Regions from separate parts of the Homo sapiens genome. Here region 2 is linked to region 1. Evidence: fine-mapped expression QTL. A gene starts in region 1. The other region holds a variant in brackets. All regions are shown on one strand. Distances are between the middles of the regions.

Evidence for each region.
Region 2: its variant is fine-mapped to the expression of CHTOP in whole blood (INTERVAL, PIP above 0.99).

What each region holds. Positions count from the first base shown.
Region 1 is chr1:153,628,743-153,640,270 of GRCh38, reverse strand. It overlaps CHTOP (chromatin target of PRMT1), which reads right to left and starts at 6,205. Exons shown (of 6, transcript NM_015607.4): 1 at 5,928-6,205; 2 at 3,618-3,699; 3 at 1,823-1,976. The coding sequence starts at 3,682. It overlaps S100A1 (S100 calcium binding protein A1), which reads right to left. Exons shown (of 3, transcript NM_006271.2): 2 at 9,609-9,762; 3 at 8,232-8,573. The coding sequence starts at 9,749. The coding sequence ends at 8,430. It also overlaps a transcript of S100A13 not described here. RefSeq lists a silencer at 5,702-5,781 and enhancers at 6,122-6,231, 10,869-11,528.
Region 2 is chr1:153,747,669-153,755,668 of GRCh38, reverse strand. It overlaps INTS3 (integrator complex subunit 3), which reads right to left. Exons shown (of 30, transcript NM_023015.5): 6 at 6,914-6,980; 7 at 4,430-4,574; 8 at 3,261-3,390; 9 at 930-1,027. LOC124904820 (small nucleolar RNA U13) reads left to right here and starts at 1,442; the gene lies at 1,442-1,545. The variant A/G (reference allele first, on the strand shown) is at 3,813.

The sequences.
Region 1 (11,528 bases):
ACTCCTGACCTCAAGTGATCCGCCTGCCTTGGCCTCCCAGAGTGCTGGGATTACAGGCCTGGCCTAAAATTAAATTAAAAAAAATTAAGCTCCTTAATTGCACTAGTCACATTTAAAGTTTTCAATAGCCACATGTGACTAGTGGCTACTGTACCGGAGAGCAAATACAGAACATTTCCATCATTGTAGAAAGTTCTGGCTGGGCACGGTAGCTCATGCCTGTAATCTGAACACTTTGGGATACTGAGGCAGGCAGATCACTTGAGGTCAGGAGTTCAAGACCAGTCTGGCCAACATGACAAAACTCCGTCTCTACTAAAAATACAAAAATTAGCCGGGTGTGGTGGCGGGCGCCTGTAGCTGAGACAGGAGAATCGCTTGAACCCGGGAGGCGGAGGCTGCAGTGAGTTGAGATTGCACCACTGCACTACAGCCTGGGTGACAGAGCAAGACTCCGTCTCAAAACAAACCAAACCAAACCAAACCAAAAACATAAAAAAATTCTATTTAATAGTACTACTCTGGATAGGGACTACTTCCTGCAGAGCCTATACTTAAAGCTTCTTGTTGAAAGGTCCTTTGGAATGATCTGTCAGAGATTCATCTTCAGCAACTTCCATTTACTCTTGGAAAATGGTGCCTTTTGCTGCTTTCCTGAGTCAGGGAGGAATCCAGTCACTCCAAGGCTTAAGGTAGCCGAAGCAGACACCCTTGTTTATTTTTGGTCAGTGAGCCCAATGGTTCAGGGTGGGGGTGTAAGGGTGTTATATTTAACTGCTGAATTTATGCATAGCCATGCAATGCTACCAAAGCCCTTACAGTTGCATGGCACTGCCCTCCAGACGCCCAGCCACAGCTTGGACATATCCTTCCACAGCCACTGTCCGGACTTGCATATAAATTCTATGAATAATAAAGAGCAGGTTTTATTTCAGGTCTGAATAGGATTATCTCTCACTGTAAATTTGAAAAAGAGAACCCCTAACTCAAATTACTCAGTATTCTTGCTCCACTTTACTGGTAAAACTTTAGGTGCTGTGGAAATGAGGGTCACTCTACTCTGTATATTTTAGCATTGAAAACCTTTGACTGCTGGGCGCGGTGGCTCAAGCCTGTAATCCCAGCACTTTGGGAGGCCGAGGCGGGTGGATCACGAGGTCAGGAGATCGAGACCATCCTGGCTAGTATGGTGAAACCCTGTCTCTATTAAATATACAAAAAAATTAGCTGGGTGTGGTGGCGGGCACCTTTAGTCCCAGCTGTTCGGGAGGCTGAGGCAGGAGAATGGTATGGACCCGGGAGGCGGAGCTTGCAGTGAGCCGAGATCGTGCCACTGCACTCCAGCCTGGGCGACAGAGCAAGACTCCGTCTAAAAAAAAAAAAAAAAAGAAAACCTTTGACTAAGGCCATGCAAACTCCCTGCACTATGGGAAAAAGAATAAAATTATTTCCCTGTTGGGTAAATCATTTAACAGAGAGTAAAGGATGCTGTGAGATTATCTAAAGCTGAAATAAAGTTTCTTTGTGGAATAAGCCATTAATCTATGTTAAGGGTTAAGGATCAGAAAACAAAAGATTAATACTCATTGGTAACAGAAACAGGCCACATAGATGGCAAACTCCCTAAAAGAGAAAGACAGTAAAAAGTTACTTATTGGTACCTGCCAAAATTGGAATTCTCTGAACTTCTCTTTCTTCCAGAGAAGTTTCAGCTTTTTGCCCTGAGCCACTTTGCAATCATCCATCACGTCCTGACAGCCTCAGTGGACTCCCTCACAGAGATCACCAGCTGCTTCTGGAGCATTAAGACCCATTCTCTCACCTGCTTAAGTTTTAATGCTGCCTGGACAGAGGGTCTATTCTCCATCTGCTGGGCCAGTCTTCTGTTTCTGGCACTGGCTAGCTGCTGTTGTTGCTGCATCGAAGCCCGAATATTCACTGGCGTCGGCTGTTTGTTCTTCAGCATATTAGTAAAGCTTCAAGGTCGAACAAAATGGATGTTTAAATAAAAGCTTTATTACAAACATTTATTGGCATTTTCATGGCTTGCTAGACCAGGAGCTCCAGATCCCACGAACTTTTAAGTAAAGTGGTACACTTAGATCAAGGCTGATGTGGGTTAAAGACTCCTCTGTTTCCACAAACTTGCAAGAATCAGAAACTTAGAAATGCAGCTAAGTGCAGCACATTCAACCAAAAGTGATAACGAGGGCTCAGGTAACGGCTTTTAGAGAGGTGGAAGGTATGAAAAACACGCAATAAGCAGATATGACAAGAGACAGAAGATATAGTTTCAAAGACAAATGAAGAAAGCCTAAACCTTGGGGGATCCGAGGTGCATTCTAAGGCCAAATATGAGGAAGGATTAGAGCACCTTCAAAGCTCACAGCAATGAACATACTCTCATAAATTACAGGAGTGTATCACATTTTAAAATATATGTCACTAACATGCAAACATAAATATTATGCAAACATAAATAATTAGCTTATCATAGCCAAAGAGATAAGGAGAGAAGCACATATGCCTCAGAAGAGGCAAAAATAGACATTAAGTAAATTTCAGTGGTCGAAAGTCAACTTAATGAAATCACTGATCAAAGGCATTCTTTTTTTTGAAACGGAGCCTCACTCTGTCCTCTGTTGCCCTGGCTGGAGTGCAGTGGCAGGATCTTGGCTCACTGCAACCTTCGCCTCACGGGTTCAAGTGATTCTCCTACCTCAGCCTCCTGAGTAGCTGGGATTATAGGCACACGCCACCACGCCCAGCTAATTTTTCTATTTTTAGTAGAGACAGGGTTTCACCATGTTGGGCAGGCTGATCTCAAACTCCTGACCTCGTGATCCGCCCGCCTCAGCCTGCCAAAGTGCTGGGATTACAGGCATGAGCCACCGCGCCTAAACAAAGGCACTCTTAATGAACAAAGTTGTCAGAGATAGAAACTGCCTTTGAATATCTTTACTTTTCTTAGTCTCCAATCATCACTTTTTCTGACTCCAAGTAGTTACTTTTCAAAGTTACATCAGTTTGATCATTTATGAGCCTGTGAAGAGACTCATTATTTCTGTCAAGGAAGTATAATGGAATGGAAGAGAAGAACACTTAACTGTAGAAGAATCCAAAACAAAACCAAACTAAAAGCAGAATGGAAAGAAAGTGAAATGGAGCAAAGCGAGTGCCTCTTACAAGGCCCAAGAATGACATTCAAGGGCCTTTGGACATATTCATGGCTTGCTACCTGCCTCTTACAGGCCAGACACAACACTGCTGGCCTTGGACTGGGCAGCAAGCCTACTGTAGCCAGGGTACCATGCTACCGTGCTGCACGACCCCAGTATCAACGTAAAAAAATGTGAAAAGGAAGAGTGTTAGGAGTCTTTTAAAATACATCCCACCAAATAAATACTTCAGACAGCTTAACATAAAAGTCTACTGATAAGGGGTTTTGAAACAACCGCCCAATTTGTTTTGTGTACCACATGAGATGCAACTAAGAACAGAGGTCTGTAGCCTTCTGTTGGTATTTAGCTTAAAATTGGCTTTGTGCATTGGACCCCAGGGCCAAGTTAAGTAATGTTTTCTTAGGAAGGAGTTGAAGTTGCTGTTGGCTGCCTCACCGCTCATTTAGAGACATCTTGGTGGTGCTTTTTAGCACAACTTTCGGCGCTGACTGTGCAGCCATCTTCGAATCCCGAGAATCTACAAAGAACAATACGTAAAATGAGCAAATCACAATAGTGACATCATTTCTATAAGTGGCAAGGCCCAAGCCAAAAATAAATAAAAAGGCCTTATCACTGATGACTAAAGAGCACACGAGGGCACATTTCAAGTGCTTAAATTTCTTTTTTTTTTTTTTTTGAGACAGGGTCTCGCTCTGTCACTCAGGCTGGAATGCAGTGGCCACTGCAGCCGTAATCTCCTGGCCTCAAAGGATTTTCCCACCTTGGCCTCCCAGTGTTGGGATCACTGGGACCCAACGCCCAGCAAAAGTTCTTAAGTTTCTATGGCAATTACCTCAGATTATTATAACTTCAAGGTGGCTGGGTATGGTGGTTCACCGCCTGTAACCCTAACACTTTGGGAGGGCAAGGGCACAGGATGGTTTGAAGCCAGGAGTTAGAGACCAGCCTGGGTAACAAAGCGAGACCCAGTCTCTACTAAGAAAAAAAAAAAAAAAAATTAGCGGTGCATGGTGGCCAGCACCTGTTGTCCTAGCTACTCAGGGGAGCTGAGGTGGGAGAATCGCTAGAGCCCAGGGGTTGGAGGCTGCAAAGAGCCGTGATCATGCCACTGCACTCTGGCCTGAGACCCCATCTCTTTAAAACAAACAAATAACCCCAAACAAACAAACAAACTTCAAGGCCCACAAAATACCCGGGAATTTCTCAAAAACGGCAGAAGCCAATCTAGCAATCAAAGTATGGAGTCTGGCTTTTTTTTTTTTTTGAGACAGAGTCTGGCTCTGTCGCCCAGGCTGGAGTGCAGAGGCGTGATCTCAGTTCACTGCAACCTCTGCCTCCCCGTTCAAGCCATTCTCCTGCCTCAGCCTCCTGAGTAGCTGGGACTACAGGCACGTGCCACCATGCCCGGCTAATTTTTTTTTATTTTTAGTAGAGACGGGGTTTCTCCACGTTGGCCAGGGTGGTCTTGAACTCCTGACCTCACCTGATCCACCCACCTGGGCCTCCCAAAGTGCTGGGATTACAGGCGTGAGCCACCGCACCGGGCCGAGTTTGGCTTTTACTCTAGAGCAGTCATTTTCAACCTTGACTACATATGACTTATCCAAGGAGCTTTTAAAACATAGGGCCGGACAGGGCGGGCGCGGTGCTTCACGCCTGTAATCTCAGCACTTTGGGAGGCCAAGGCGGGAGGAATGCTTGAGCCCTGGAGCTCGAGACCAGCCTGGGCAACATGGTAAGACCCCGTTTCTATAAAAATATAAATTAATTAAAAAAATAGAAAATACAGACATCTGGGCCTAGATCAATTAAACCACAATCTCTGGTAATGAGGTTTGGAAATGAACCAATTGTGGGGTCGGGGGAAAGCTACCTAGGTGCTTCTAATGTGCAGCTAAAGTTGAGAACCACTGATCTACAGTGAAAATACAGGCAGGGCCGGGCGCGGTGGCTCACGCCTGTTTTCCCAGCACTTTGGGAGGCCGAGGCGGGCGGATCACCTGAGGTTGGGAGTTCGAGACCAGCTTGACCATCATGGAGAAATGTCTCTACTAAAAATACAAAATTAGCCGGGCGTGGTGGCGCATGGCTGTAATCCCAGCTACTCCGGAGGCTGAGGCAGGAGAATCGCTTGAACCCGGGAGGCGGAAGTTGTAGTGAGCTGAGATCGTGCCATTGCACTCCAGCCTGGGCAACAAGAGCGAAACTCCGTCCCCCCCCAAAAAAAAATATATATATATATGTATGTATATATATACATATATATATGCATGCCTAGTTTCAAAAGTGGCTTTCAACTCCAGAATCAAGTAGGGACTTTAACAAGAAACTGACGATCTGGGGGAGTAGGAAAGGTTTTCTAAATTCACCTGGGAATTAGCTCGCAAAGAGCCCTCCACAAAACTTAACCCTAAAGCCGCCATTAATTTCCAACATTCCTCAAAGTCTTGTACTTCTTAATCTCCCTACCATCCTCAAAGCCCTGTCAAGACTTCCACTTCTGCTCTACCCGCCAAGTTTCCTTTTTATCCTATCAAACCCCAACCTCCATCAATCCCGCCACCAGGTTCCAGTTCAGCCCCTCCCCCGCCCCTTCGCAGGGGCTCCGCCTCCTCCCCGGGGCCTCCACGCTCCAACACCGTAGCTATGTCCACATGCCACCACCCCCTTTCCGCGTCCGCCGGCCCCTTCCGCTCCTCAAGACCGCACCTCCCCCGGCTCCTTCTCACTACCGAAACTCACCGAAGGAAACAGACGCCAGTGCTCCTCCCGGGGCTGCCACCACGGCTCCGGCAGGCGGGCCGGGGACCGGCCGAACCTGAGTTGACGGTGGAGGGGCTCGGGTTAGCTAGATGGGCGGTTGGTTAGATGCGTAAGCGGTAGTATGCGAGCTCAGTTCGTTGTTGCTGGTTGGCTGTCTAGTCGGCCGATCCGTCTGCTCACCCGGCCTGCCCTTTCCTGCCTTTCGTCTGCAGCGGCCGCCAGCTCCTGCTCGGTGTCCAAAACAAAATGGCCGCCACGTCCAGTGCTTGTCTGACCGGCTAAAATGGCGTCTACGCAATTACGTCAGGCGTCAGATCCGCGCACGACTAGAGGGCGGGAAAGATTTGAGCTACGCCTGCGCAGAGGTCAGAGGCGGAGCCTTAGGGCGAAGGCGGGGCTTTCCATGCAGTGCCCCGCCCCTAGGGGCGTGGCCAATGGTCCTGTTGTTGGGGCGTGCCGGGGACTTCACGTTCCAGTAGTGGTTGCGCTGCAACCTCTTGGGGGTAGTTATTAATGTGGGCCTTAGAGGGGATTTGGGTCCCGAATTCCCTCGCCCCTCCGTTCCCTAGCCAAGGTACACCGTCTAAAAATCTTTACGCGGACTTGCCTCGTCTTCTTCCGGACAATTGGGCCTGGGGAATTTGCACTGGTTTTCCCCTCATGGCCACTCGCCCAGTCTGAGAGTTGTGAAGTGCCGTAAATGCTCCAGCCAAGGCCCAGGAGGCCAGTATTAGGAGCAAATTCCTCTCCCATCCTGCACCGGCCAACACCACCGCCCGTCCATGTTTTCCTCCTCACTTCCTCCCCTCCCCAACTTGGCCTAGATACTGTTTACTCCTTCTTGGGGTGGGGCACCTTTGCGTCCTCGATTGCGTTTCCATGTCCTCCCCCCACACCTGCCATCCGTGTTTATTTTGTTGCAGACCTACATAGGGATTTCTCTTTTCTCTCTCTGATTTGTTGTTGTTATTTTGAGACGGGGTCTGGCTCTGTTGTCCAGGCTGGAGTCAGTGGCGCAATGAATCACGGATCACTGCAGCCTTGACCTACTGGGCTCAGGTGATCCTCTCACCTCAGCCTCCCGACTCCTAGGATTATGGGCATAAGCTATGTTTCCTGCTCAATAAGGGATTTTTCTCTCTTTCTTTTTTTTTTCTTTTTGCAGATGGAGTCTCGCTGTGTCACCCAGACTGGAGTGCAGTGGTACCATCTCGGCTCACTGCAACCTCCGCCTCCCAGGTTCAAGCGATTCTCCTGCCTCAGCCTCCTGAGTAGCTGGAATTACAGGCGCGTACCACCATGCCCCGCTAATTTTTGTATTTTTAGTAGAGATGGGGTTTCACCAGGCTGGTCTCCAACTCCTGACCTCAAGTGATCTGCCCGCCTCTGTCTCCCAAAGTGCTGGGACTACAGTCGTGAGCCACTGTGCCCGGCCTCAATAAGGGATTTTTCTAATGACTATGTGCACAATACAGTGTACATATGTTTGAGGAATGAGAGAATGACACATCTGCAACCCTTCCTCTGCTCCACTGGCACGTCAAGACCCTTTCATTTTCCTTCCTGGCACTTGGGCGTGTGCGTGTGTGTATGTGTTTGTGTGTGTCTGTGTGTAAGTAATGGCCCAGCATCCTTACCCATGTGAGGGTAAGGATCGTGGTTATTTTGCTTAATGCTGGAGCCTCAGTTCCTACAGTGTTTACACATAGTACCACTTAAGTAAATGTTCGTTGATTGAAAGAAGATTCTTTCGGCCTAGCGCGGTGGCTCATGCCTGTAATCTCAGCACTTTGGGAGGCCGAGGCGGGGGGATCACGAGGTCAGGAGATCGAGACCATCCTGGCCAACATGGTGAAACCCCGTCTGTACTAAAAATACAAAAAATTAGCCGGGCGTGGTGGCAGGCGCCTGTAGTCCCAGCTGCTCGGGAGGCTGAGGCAGGTGAATCGCTTGAACCTGGGAGGCGGAGGTTGCAGTGAGCCGAGATCGTGCCACTGCCCTCCAGCCTGGGTGACAGAGCCAGACTGTGTCTCCAAAAAAAAAAAAAAAAAAAAAAGATTATTTCTTCCTCTGGTTTTATAGTTGAGAAGCTGATGTCTCCTCGACTTCCAACTGGAACCTTGAACCCCCACATTTCTGGACCTTGAGCATTCCTCAAGTAGGAAGATGTAATGCACCTTGACCTCTTTCTAAATAAGACACTTCCCCAAATAAGGGGAGTTGAGAGTGAACAGTCTTCACGTCTCCACCCACTTCCAGATCCCAGAGGAGACAGACATCGGATGGCTGGTGAGAGAGAAGCCTTTAATGAAAGATGAGTTGCAGGCTTGGACCGCTACTCTTGCGCCCTTGGTGGGGGTGGGGGTGGGGTGGGCAAGGGTGGGGTTATGGAGAGGGATAAGTGGGGTGAGGTGGAAGCAGGGGGAAGAGGCAGGTCTGGGAGGGTGGAGAGGAAGGGCGCTGCCCAATGTGGCTGTCTGCTCAACTGTTCTCCCAGAAGAAATTGTTACAGGCCACTGTGAGAGCAGCCACAAGCACCACATACTCCTGGAAGTCCACCTCCCCGTCTCCATTCTCGTCTAGCTCCTTCATCACCTTGTCCACAGCATCCACATCCTTCTGGGCCTGTGGTGGGAGGAGAGGAAGAGGGAGGTGTATAGGGAAGGGTACAGCACTGAGTCAGAGGCAAGGGGGTGGTTGAGGAGCAGGAGGCAAAGATGAGCGAGAGGAACTGCATTGAATTATGGGACTCTTCTAGGCCTCCTCAAAGGTCTTGAGGGCTTCTGTTGCCTACAGCATAAGCTCTTTCACCTGGCAGAATGAATAATAATGACACCAGTTACCGTATGTTCAGTGCCTATAATAAAGCAAGCACTACACTAGGAGCTTTACAAGCACTGTCTAATTTAATTCTAATACAAATAATGTGAGGTATGTTTCATTATTTCCATTCTAGAGAAGAAACAAATTGGTAATCGGTGGTTAAATAAATATGCCCAAAGTCCCACAGCTAGAAAGTAGCAGGGCTGGAATTTGAACCCAGTCCAATAAAACCTCAAAACCGGTGCACTTTCTACCGTATCCTGAGGCTTCTTTACTTTGGGGCCCTGGTTAGCCTTAGCAGCCTAGTTTTCTACATCCTTCATGCCAGTTGAATGAAACTACTGACATGCTCCACATTCTTCTTTCTCCCATGCTTTTGTTCATTCAGTTACCTCCTCCTAAAATGTCTGCATTTACCCAGATAATCTTCCAATGGAAATCCATGGTTCAAGTGCCACCTCTTCAGGAAAGCCATCTGACTTCAATCAGGTTAATAATCTCTCATAACCCTTTCTGGTACATCTGTTAAGGCTCTGTGTATTTCCTGGAGTTCATGGTTTACTTTTAAGTGTCAATCTTTCCCTTCTAAGTCTGTGTGTCTTATTATTGATGAATCTACACAGGGCCTAACACTTAACAGGTGATCAATAAACCAGGGCATTTTGACTTGACCCAGGAGGAGTAGGGGAGCCTGGAAAAACCCAGGAGAGAAGCCTGGGAAAGGAAAGAAAGAGGCTAGGCTGAGCTGGAGGTGGGGTGGGGAGATAGCAAGGGGGTGTCCACCCCATTCCCCCAACCTTCACCCACTCCACTCCCACTCCACCACTCTATGCTCACATCCAGGAAGCCAGAGAGCTCCGTCTGCAGCAGCTCTTTCAGCTCCTTCTTGCTCAGCTTGTACTTGTCCCCCTCTTTGCCCGAGTGGGCGTGGAACACGTTGATGAGGGTCTCCATCGCCGTCTCCAGCTCAGAGCCCATTGCAGCAGTGCACCTACCCACCCCCATCATGGAAGTGAGCTGAGGACCAGGCCCGGAGTACCTGGGGTCTAGGTGAGGGGAACCCTCAGGACTGGCCCTGGCTGACAGCTCAAATAGCTGTGGGATTAGAGCCCTACTGCAATTGATCTTTCCCTGAGATTTTACAATGTGAGGGAAACCCCAAGAGACCTAAGTGCAGGCCTGTTCTCTGTGTCCCTCAGTCTGTACCCCAGCCAGAGGGAATCAGGGTTGGGGCATGGAGAGAGAGCAGTTGGAGCTGGGCTGGCTCCAGAGGCCTGTGGTAGATGTCTGCAGTGGCTGCCCAGGCAGGGATTGAGGAGGGTGGGGCAGGCAGGGGTGGTCACAGGACTGGGCCATGCTTCCTCTGGCTCTATTTTTACCCTGGACCTTGCCTGTCTAGCATAGCCAAGCTCTGCTGTTGAGGGTGGTGGGCTGGGGTGTCCACTACAGCCTTCCTTCTGCTGCCCACCCCTAGCAAGGAGTCAGTCTGGTACCCTCGGTCAGCCTGGTAGAGGGGATGGCAGCCCCAGTGGGTGGCGTACGCCTTCTGGGGGAGGGAGGTCTCACTGACTCTGAGTTTCCTGTCAGCAGCTGGGGGCCCCTTTTGGTCCTTCAACTCTGTTCTCTCCTGAACATGTCATTTTGGCTTCTTTGGGATATGCTCCCATTGCCTCTGCAAAATTATCCCTTCCATCTGGTGGGTGGCAGAAGGGGAGAGAGGAATGTCTGAGCCTTTTCCTTGGAGCCAGAGTTCCCAGGGAGTGGGAGAGGAGACCTGCAGGCGTTGTCCCTGCAACTGCTCACTCCTGGTTGATTCGGGGATAGTGGGAGCAAGGGGAATGGGGCTGCTGTGTGTTGGGGGAGAGAAAGGGCTGAAAGCATGCGGTCCTTTGAGTTCAAGGGGCTGGGAGAGAGTAGGAGAAGAAAGGAGAAAGGAGTGGTCTGTTGAGAGAGAAGACTGCCAAGCCGGGGGGCCTCTTTCCCTTGGCCCTGGGACAGTCTGGCCTTCCACAACCCCAGAGGGGGCAGCTCAGGTGTCTCGGATCAGATGTCCCCATCCTTCCCCAGGCCTAGGGGGCTGGACAATGGCCCCTGATCGAATGACATCCCAGTTCTTCAATGGGGCCCTTGTGAGTGTCATCTGAACTCCGGACCTGAGAAGCAGTTGTCACAGAGACATGGGGGAGATGGAACCCAAGCTGTGGCTGATGAGGGGATAAGGGGTGCTTGAGGGAGGGGTGCTGGTAGCTTGATTACCTGCTCCATGCCAGAGGGGCAGCTGGAGGTCACCTGGAGCCCTAAAGCAGCCTGGGATTTTACGTGGTGGCAGTTCTGAGAGGACTTGGGGGCAGGGGAGATGGGGAAACAAAGAGGTAAGAATGGGGGGAAAGAGGAGTCAAGAGGTCTGGGCCAAAAATGGGAGGAGGAGAAAGGGGAGGTCCTGTGGAGGTCGAGTTGGGAAGGGGCACAGCACCCTACATCTCTGCTTCCCCATATCATGGGAGCTTTGCCCTGCCACCCCCAGACTCCCCCGGGACCTGAGCTCTTGGCAAGGCAGGGTGGGGGTGGCAGAGACTAAGGCTGGCAGGAGAGGTGGGGGCAGAAACAGCTGTTGTATCTGCTCTCTTCTTACCCCACAGGAGGCGAGGCAGGGGAGGGCTGGGACCCTTCCCAACACCTGGGAGACAGAGGGGGCCTTGGCAGGGACTTGAGGGCTCCCTGTGGGAGGGCCAGGCGGTCAGGAAGCTCATGGTGGGT
Region 2 (8,000 bases), 120 kb before region 1:
CCTGGACAATTATTCTGGGTGACTTGGGAAAGCTGATTAGGAAAGCAGTTCTCGACAGCCAGACTGGCCGCAGAGGAATGGCCTGGGAAGTCTGCTAAAAACAGATTCTGGCTGGGTGCAGTGGCTCACGCCTGTAATCCCAGCACTTTGGGAGGCTGAGGCAGGTGGATCACCTGAGGTCGGAAGTTCGAGACCAGCCTGACCAACATGGAAAAATCCCGTCTCTATTAAAAATACAAAATTTGCCAGGTGTGGTGCATGCCTGTAATCCTAGCTACTTGGGAGATTGAGGCAGGAGAATCACTTGAACCCAACAGGCGGAGGCTGCGGAGAGCCGAGATCGCGCCACTGCACTCTAGCCTGGGCAACAAGAACGAAACTCCATCTCAAAATACAAACAAACAAAACCAAAAAAAAAACCCCACAAATTCCTCAATCAAATTATCTAGGAGAGTGGGATCCAGGAAGCTGCATCTTTAACATGCTCAAGTAATTCTGCCATTATTCAGTCAAGTCTGGAAACATACATAGCTTTCTTCCTGAGACCTCATGGTTCTCCTGGAGCAATCGTGGGTTTCTTAGCGTGAACACTTTCACTCTCCCCTTTATAGAATATTTCACACTTGTAAATGATACTAGTATTTCTATATAATTATTGGTTTAGTGACTACTTTAGATAAACTAAAAGCTTCACAACAGCTGGAACTGTATCTCTCTTATTCGACAGTGTACCCCCAATCCTTAGCACCATGCTCAATATGTAGGCACAGAATGAATAAAGGACAAAGAAGCCAGTAGCCAGGTAGATCAGGTACGATCATTTAGCCACCATTCTACTGGTTAGTAAACAATGGTAACAGCTCCACAGACCGAAGCAAGAAGCCCAGCCAGCGTGTGACCTCTTCTCTTGCTGCAACACCTTAGCTTACCCGGGATGTCATGAAGAGGAGTTTAGTCTCCATGTCCGGGGTTAGACGACATGCTAGGAATTTTCGGGATGTTCTTGACTGAAGAAGCTGTAGGATACCTGAATCAAATGTGGAAGGGAAGAGAAAAGAGGAAGCCTAAGGACCAGAAAGAATGAAAGGCATGTTGGGAACCTGGGCCAGGTACTGATGGCCAGTAGTCTTGCTCACGGAGAAATTCCAAGACAAGACCAAGGGAGGTCAAGCACAGGTGGGGATTCCAACCAGCACTTACGTGTTCTGCTCCAAACAACCACTATCCCCAGGACCCAGCTATATTACTTCCTGTCTTCTGCTGGTCTTCCAGAGTCTCCTACCCACATGATTCCCACTGGTAACAGATGGGAAAGTTAAGGGAAAAATATGGGAAACCCTGGCTGCTCTTCCTGCTCCTGATGATCCCATCCTTGGGTCCTGGAATCAATGTTATTTGTGGCATGAGCATGAGCCCTGGAGTCAGAAACATGTGGATCCAGATCCTATTGTAGCTCATAAGCATGATTATTGGTTTTTCACACTCATGCGTGAGATGTGCCTCCCTCAAACCTTGTTACCATGTCCCCACATTACCTGCCTGACATGAGAGAACAAAAATAATTTAAAAGACCAGCATGGTGGCTCACACCTGTAATCCTAGCACCTTGGGAGGCCGAGGCAGGTGGCTCCCTTGAGCCTACGAGTTCAAGACCAGCCTTGGCAACATGGTGACACCCCATCTTAAAAAACAGAAAAAAAAAAAAAAAAAAAGAGGCCAGGTGCGGTGGCTCATGCCTGTAATCTCAGCACTTTGGGAGGCCAAGGCAGGTGGATTGCTTGAGGTCAGGAGTTCAAGACCAGCCTGGCCAACATGGTGAAACTCCATCTCTACAAAAATACAACATTTACCTGGGCATGATGGCAGGTGCCTGTAATCCTAGCTACCTGGGAGGCTGAGGCGGGAGAATCGCTTGAACCCAGGAGGCGGAGGTTGCAGTGAGCTGAGATCACGCCATTGCACACCAGCCTGAGGGACAGAGCAAGACTCCGTCTCAAAAAAAAAAAAAAAAAAGAGACCTGCCTCTGTCACCTAACCTACCAGCTGTACAGCCTTGGGCAAATTACTTCATCTCCTTAAACCTCAGTTTCTTTTCTTTTCTTTTCTTTTTTTTGGGACAGAGTCTCACTCTGTCGCCAGGCTGGAGTGCAGTGGCGCGATCTCGGCTTACTGCAAACTCCACCTCCTGGGTTCAAGCGATTCTCTTGCCTCAGCCTCCCGAGTAGCTGGGAATACAGGCATGTGCCACCATGCCCAGCTAATTTTTGCATTTTTAGTATAGACAGGGTTTCATCATGTTGCCCAGGATGGTCTTGAACTCTTGACCCCGTGATCCGCCCGCCTCGGCCTCCCAAAGTGCTGGGATTACAGGTGTGAGCCACCGCGCCCGGCCTCAAACCTCAGTTTCTTTATGTATAAATGTAGAAACTAAAATACTCACAGGGCTGTCCAGAAGATTAAATGAGGTAACACATGTTTGTCTAACACAGTGGAGGCACTTAAAGCAATGAAATAGATGTTCAATATAAGAGTACTACAATTTCCAGCACTTTCTTCTTTCCTGACTTCCCAGGTCCTGGACAACTGCCTTCAGAGTGAGTGTGTGTGTGTGTGTGTGTGTGTGTGTAGGAGGGGAGCGGGTGCATGCACGATCACAAGCACGTGTGTGTTGAGGTGGGGTGGGGAGCAAAGCTGTACAGTTATTGTTCAGAACATAGCAGGACCCTGGGAAAGGGAAAGGGATATAAAAAGGACCTTGTCGGGAGGAGGCACACGGAGACTCCCTCCTCCAAAGTGGATTTTGCCCAAGCTGGATCCTTGGAATTCGAGGCAAGACTGTTCCCAGGGAGGGGCCTTCTCTTACAGGACTAATTCCAGCCCTCTACTGACTCAGTCTCACGAGTTGACCTCTGACTCCCCTGCTAGACTCCGTGAAGCTGAACACTGGCCACTGGCTCACCTCCTGAGCCAAGGAGCTGCCAGGAAGAGGGGAGGAGGACTACAGTTATCTGTCTCACTTTTTTCTTAGTAGTAATGTGGCAGCTGGAGTCTGCCAAGTAGGGGCTGTCTAGGAACTACATGAATTGTTCTGTACCTCTGCCATTCGCAGTTGTACTTGGCAAAGCTTGCCCTGTCCCAGGCTTCCTAAATCTGACCACCAAAGACTCTCCTACCCACCAACCTCTACCTTCTTGATTCAAGCAAGACATACACATTGAACTCCCAGCTCTCAAGGACAGGATGCCTAAGACCCTACTTACCTGTGAACTGAGGACTCAAGGCCTGAGGATTATGGATAATATCTTTCCAAAGCAGTTCAAATTCTGGTATCCTAGCAACATTCTGAAGTAGTCTTACGAGATCCCGACCAATCATCAGACATTCCATGAACTTGATAGGGAAGAGGAAGTGGGGGACAGGAAAGAGAATAAAAACATGGATTGTTTACCTGCTGGAGGGAGGACAAAGGAACAACATGTTCTAGGGAGGGAAGGAAAGAGGGTTGAAGAAACTATGATTTCTTCTGGAACCAAAGGATTGGCTCCTAGCTGTTCAGGGGAAGAGAGCTGGAAGCTGGGGACTGATATCAAGGATGAGAGGTTAGTGGGAAGTGCTGAAGCCCTGCTGGCTTTCACATTAATCTACCTCCCTCTCCACTCAGAACTGTTTCAATCCAGTTCAAGGAAGATTAAAGTTTCAAAAGGATGGGACTGGCAAGTTGAGCCCCAGAAACCCTAACCTCAAACTTATTTTGTCTAACAAAATTCTGCAGTATCTAATTCTGTGGGTCCGATTCTGTGGTAGAAATGTCT[A/G]TATCTGTGTAGTCTAAATGAAACCCATTAGCAACGTGTAGCTAATGCAACTAGAGAAGTGAATTTTAACTTTTTATCTAACATTAATTTTAGGCTGGGCAGAGTGGCTCACGCCTATAATCCCAACACTTTGGGAGACTGAGGTGGGAGGATCACTTGAGGCCAGGAGTTTGAGATCAGCCTGGGCAACAAAGCAAGGCCCAGTATCTACAAAAATAAAAAGTAAAAAAAATTTTTAATTGCCACATGGGAGGTCTGATAGAGGACAATTCATAATCCCACTAGACCATGGGAATTACCCAGGAGAGTAGGTGGGGGACTGTGTCATGGTAGGCACACAAGGACAGCTTATGTCTGTGGTATACAACAGTATCCTTGAAGCTGACCAGGGAAATCCCAAAGATGCCAGCTTAACAGGTAGCATTTCTAGGAATTAGGGCTATTTTACACTAACTCCCCCTCCTTTCTACCCTCATCTGTTGATGAATGATGGAAAACACCAGATCTTGATGCACCTTCATCTCTAACAAGGTATTTCTGACTCCACTGCATAAACCTCCAGAGGTATCTTAGCCTGAGTCTCACTTCCCCACATTATTTTTGTCCTGTTCCCTCACCCGTTCCCGAAGCAGTGAGATGCAGAAGTCTACTTCCTTCTGTCGCAGGGCCTGGAGCTGGGCAGTCCCATGGTGGTCCACGATGAGGCGGAGGTACGTGTAAACAGCCATGGCAATGAGGATGCTGCTCTTCAGGACCCACTCCCTGCAGGGAGGAAACACACTGGCTCCTATGCTCTGTCTAGAACTATTCACCCTCCCAATTCACGCTTCTTGGGCTTGGCTACAGTGCCTCAGAAATAATTGATGATTTGACACTGGGAGTAGATGCTTTGATTTTTTGCTTGCTCACTCATGCTAGTATCTATCTTGGACTATCAACTGGCTAAGCTACGGACAACTTCCTAATTTTCTCTTCCAAGTGCCTATAAAGATAAGTGCCAAATGAAAGCAATCTCTTTTTACCACCTAACTACTTAGCTTCCAAGAAAATAACTCTCTTTGTTGACTCATTCATTCAAACATTTACTGAGTGCCTATCATGTGCCAAGCAACATGTGAGGTACTAGGGACAGAATTAACCACAGTATCTACCCAGGTCAGACTATGGGGAAAAGCTGGGTAAGTGTCCCTAAGTCAGTGGTTCTTAAGTGTGGTGCAAGAACATGTGGGGACTGCCAAGACCCTTTCAGGACCTGGAGTTTTGAGAACATACTGTGCTAGCTCAGTCTGCTTATCATTAGCAGCTCACCATGCCACAAACCTTTCCCTGGCTCTATCTAGTCACTGATACACAACGAGTCCCCACTCCCACACAATGAGTCACCTGTCCTAAATCACAACCTGAAAAAAAGAACCCGATTTTGGGTGGCAAACTCCTTTTCCCATGAGTTTCAGAATATCCCTGAGGGAAAAGGGGGTAATGAAAGATTTGTTCCCAGTTGCTTTAAAAGGAGTAGAGAGAAAGACACAGTGGGGATATTCCTAAAACTCTAATCCTGTCTCTAAGTGACAAAATTGAGACGCTGTCTCCTCCCAGCAAACAATTTGTAATGGCTTTGGCCCCCCTGTTGGAAGGCAGGGAACTGCAGGAAGATGAGATGGTGTTTAATTAGTCCAAGCAGGCCACATCCTGATTCCGGAAAACTACTCAAGCCACCTAATTAAAAGACTCTGTGGCCTTTTCTTTTCACAGAATGGATACACTAGCCAAGGTTACTGGGGAACGTTTCCTCCCCTACCTGCTACCTTTTAACTCCACAGCCCTAGAAACATTTGGAAGGGAGTGAGAAGGAGGGTGTAGGAGAGGACACAGTTTTAAATTTCTAGGTATTGACTTTCACCAAAAGATGTAAGTTTTTTGGAGGGTAGAAAACAGGGCAGTTATCTGGCTGTTATCTGATGCCTGTACAGGAAATTCAGCTTTAAGGTATGGGGACAGGACGTATTTGGTACCACGAATAAAATAAGAAAAATCACTTTTTAGAAAGATTGCTAGCAAAGGTAACGAAATTACCTGAATCCTGGAATGGCATAATAAAGAGAAAGAAAGAGTTGAAAGGCCCCCTGACCCAGGACAGTAAAAAGGAACAAAGACCTATCTGGTAAGAAGAGACTGTTAGGATCTCACGTGCTAGTGCAATGACACCAATAACAGAAGTGGCTCCAGGCCCAGATGTGGCTGCACATCCGTGCCCAGAGCACTAGGTGGCACTGCACAGCAGACAGGGCAGGGCTCTCAGACCTGGGCAGAGCACAGCACACAGCCATCTCTTTCACAAGTGTGAACGTTGGGAGGAGGTCCATTCTTCTGAACTACAGATAGTATGGACACTATTAGCCCTCTCAATCATTTGACTACTATGGTGTCCTCAATCAGAAAAGAGACTTAGAAGTCAAGCAAGAGGAAGACTGAAACCAAGGGGAAAGCCTCACCTCCAAACAAGTTCAGATGTGGAATAGCCCTCATAAAATTTCTGGCCCTTTATTTTGATGGATAAGGGAAAGAATCAGCCAGAAAGCCCAATATGTACCCCCTGATGCACCCTCTACCACTGGAACCTCCAAACCCTATATGCAAACTCCAGCAGGATTCACTAATCTCTATTACCTGCTCCACCCCAACTGCCCCCTGTGCCACTTCAAAAAGAGCAGGGGTTGGATGGAGAAGCTTGCAGGGGAGAAAAGGATACCTGCCAGGCGTGGGTGTTTGGCTGGCCCAATTCTACTGAGCTCATTCCTCCCCAACTTCCCCCTAAGATAAACATTCCAAGGAGGTCTGGATCAAAAATAAACCCTTATCAGATGAAGCCAGTTTTTCTGGGCTATGCGATATTTTGGCAAAGACCTCTTTCCCATTCCTTCATTCCTTGGGCATTAATTTCTTCACTTGCCAACAATACACTTGTCTCTCCCTCTCCTTGCCTCCCCCTCTCTAACTTAAGGTGTTCTTGGGCCACACAATCCTTTCATCCCCATTTCCCACACCCACACTCCTAATGGCCATTATCTGGCCTGTACCCCACCCTTCGTGGTGGATGCTACCTTTGCTCTGTCAGGATATCCAGAACACTTTCTGCCAACCAGATATTTTTGGCTGTAACATCTCCACCTGATTTCAAAAGGGGAAAAAAAGAATAGCTCCGATTAGCAAGTCAGCCAATCCAATACATCTCTTCACCCATTCTGCTGGTCCACCCTGACTGCCATCCCATTACTGCCATCCCTTCACTGCTGAGATAAACTGCCTTCTGTTCTGTCAGGCTTTAAAGTTTCACCCTTTGCCTCCAGAAAGAAGGAAAGGGAAGGTTCTGAATTTTTCTAGAAACCAGAGCTGCTACTTTCCCACAGATTGTGAGTTGGAGTGGGAACATTTTGGCCCTTGAAAATGAACGTCTGAGAAGTAGATATAAGAAGCCCACAGTTGGAAAGAAAGGATGATATCTCAGATAGAGCCTGAGAAGTACAGGTGGCTGACAACAGCTGCAGTCTAGCAACTGGATGTCCTGAGTCCTGCACTGAGGCCCCCAACAGGCCAAGAGTTTCTTATTTCCAGGTAACAGTCTTTAGTGCTTGCTATGAAACTCTGTGGGGCAGAATTAACACACAGCAATGCCATACCAGTCTTGGGATAAGAAGCAGGGGCTGGAAGTGCCAAACAGGGAAGAAGTGCCAGGAAAGAGGATAAAAATAGCTACAACTATGCCTTGCCCCAGGTCTCAATTAAAAAATTCAATGTTCACAAAGTCACATATCACATAGATTAAGGTTCATACACATCAAAACAGGAGCATCAGTGTTACATAAAATTTTAAAGAGGAAGCAAGTCCCAGTGGGCTAATGGTGAGGTAGTAGCAGGTCACTTTTAAACAAACACATGCAATCTTGGGAGTAGCCGCTTGAATATGCGATAGCTCAGACAGATGTCACCGATGCCAAGATGAGAATAAAACCTAAATGTCAGGGTCTGTTCTGTGACATAGTTTGTCCCTCATTCTGGCCCCAGTAAAGGGCTTAATTATTAGGGAGCAAGCGTTCAGATAATGGGGGTGGAGCCAGGGAAGATGTCTAGGTTTCTGAAAGCACAGGGACTTGAGAACAAATTAATTGCCCTCACTTCTCTCCCCATTTC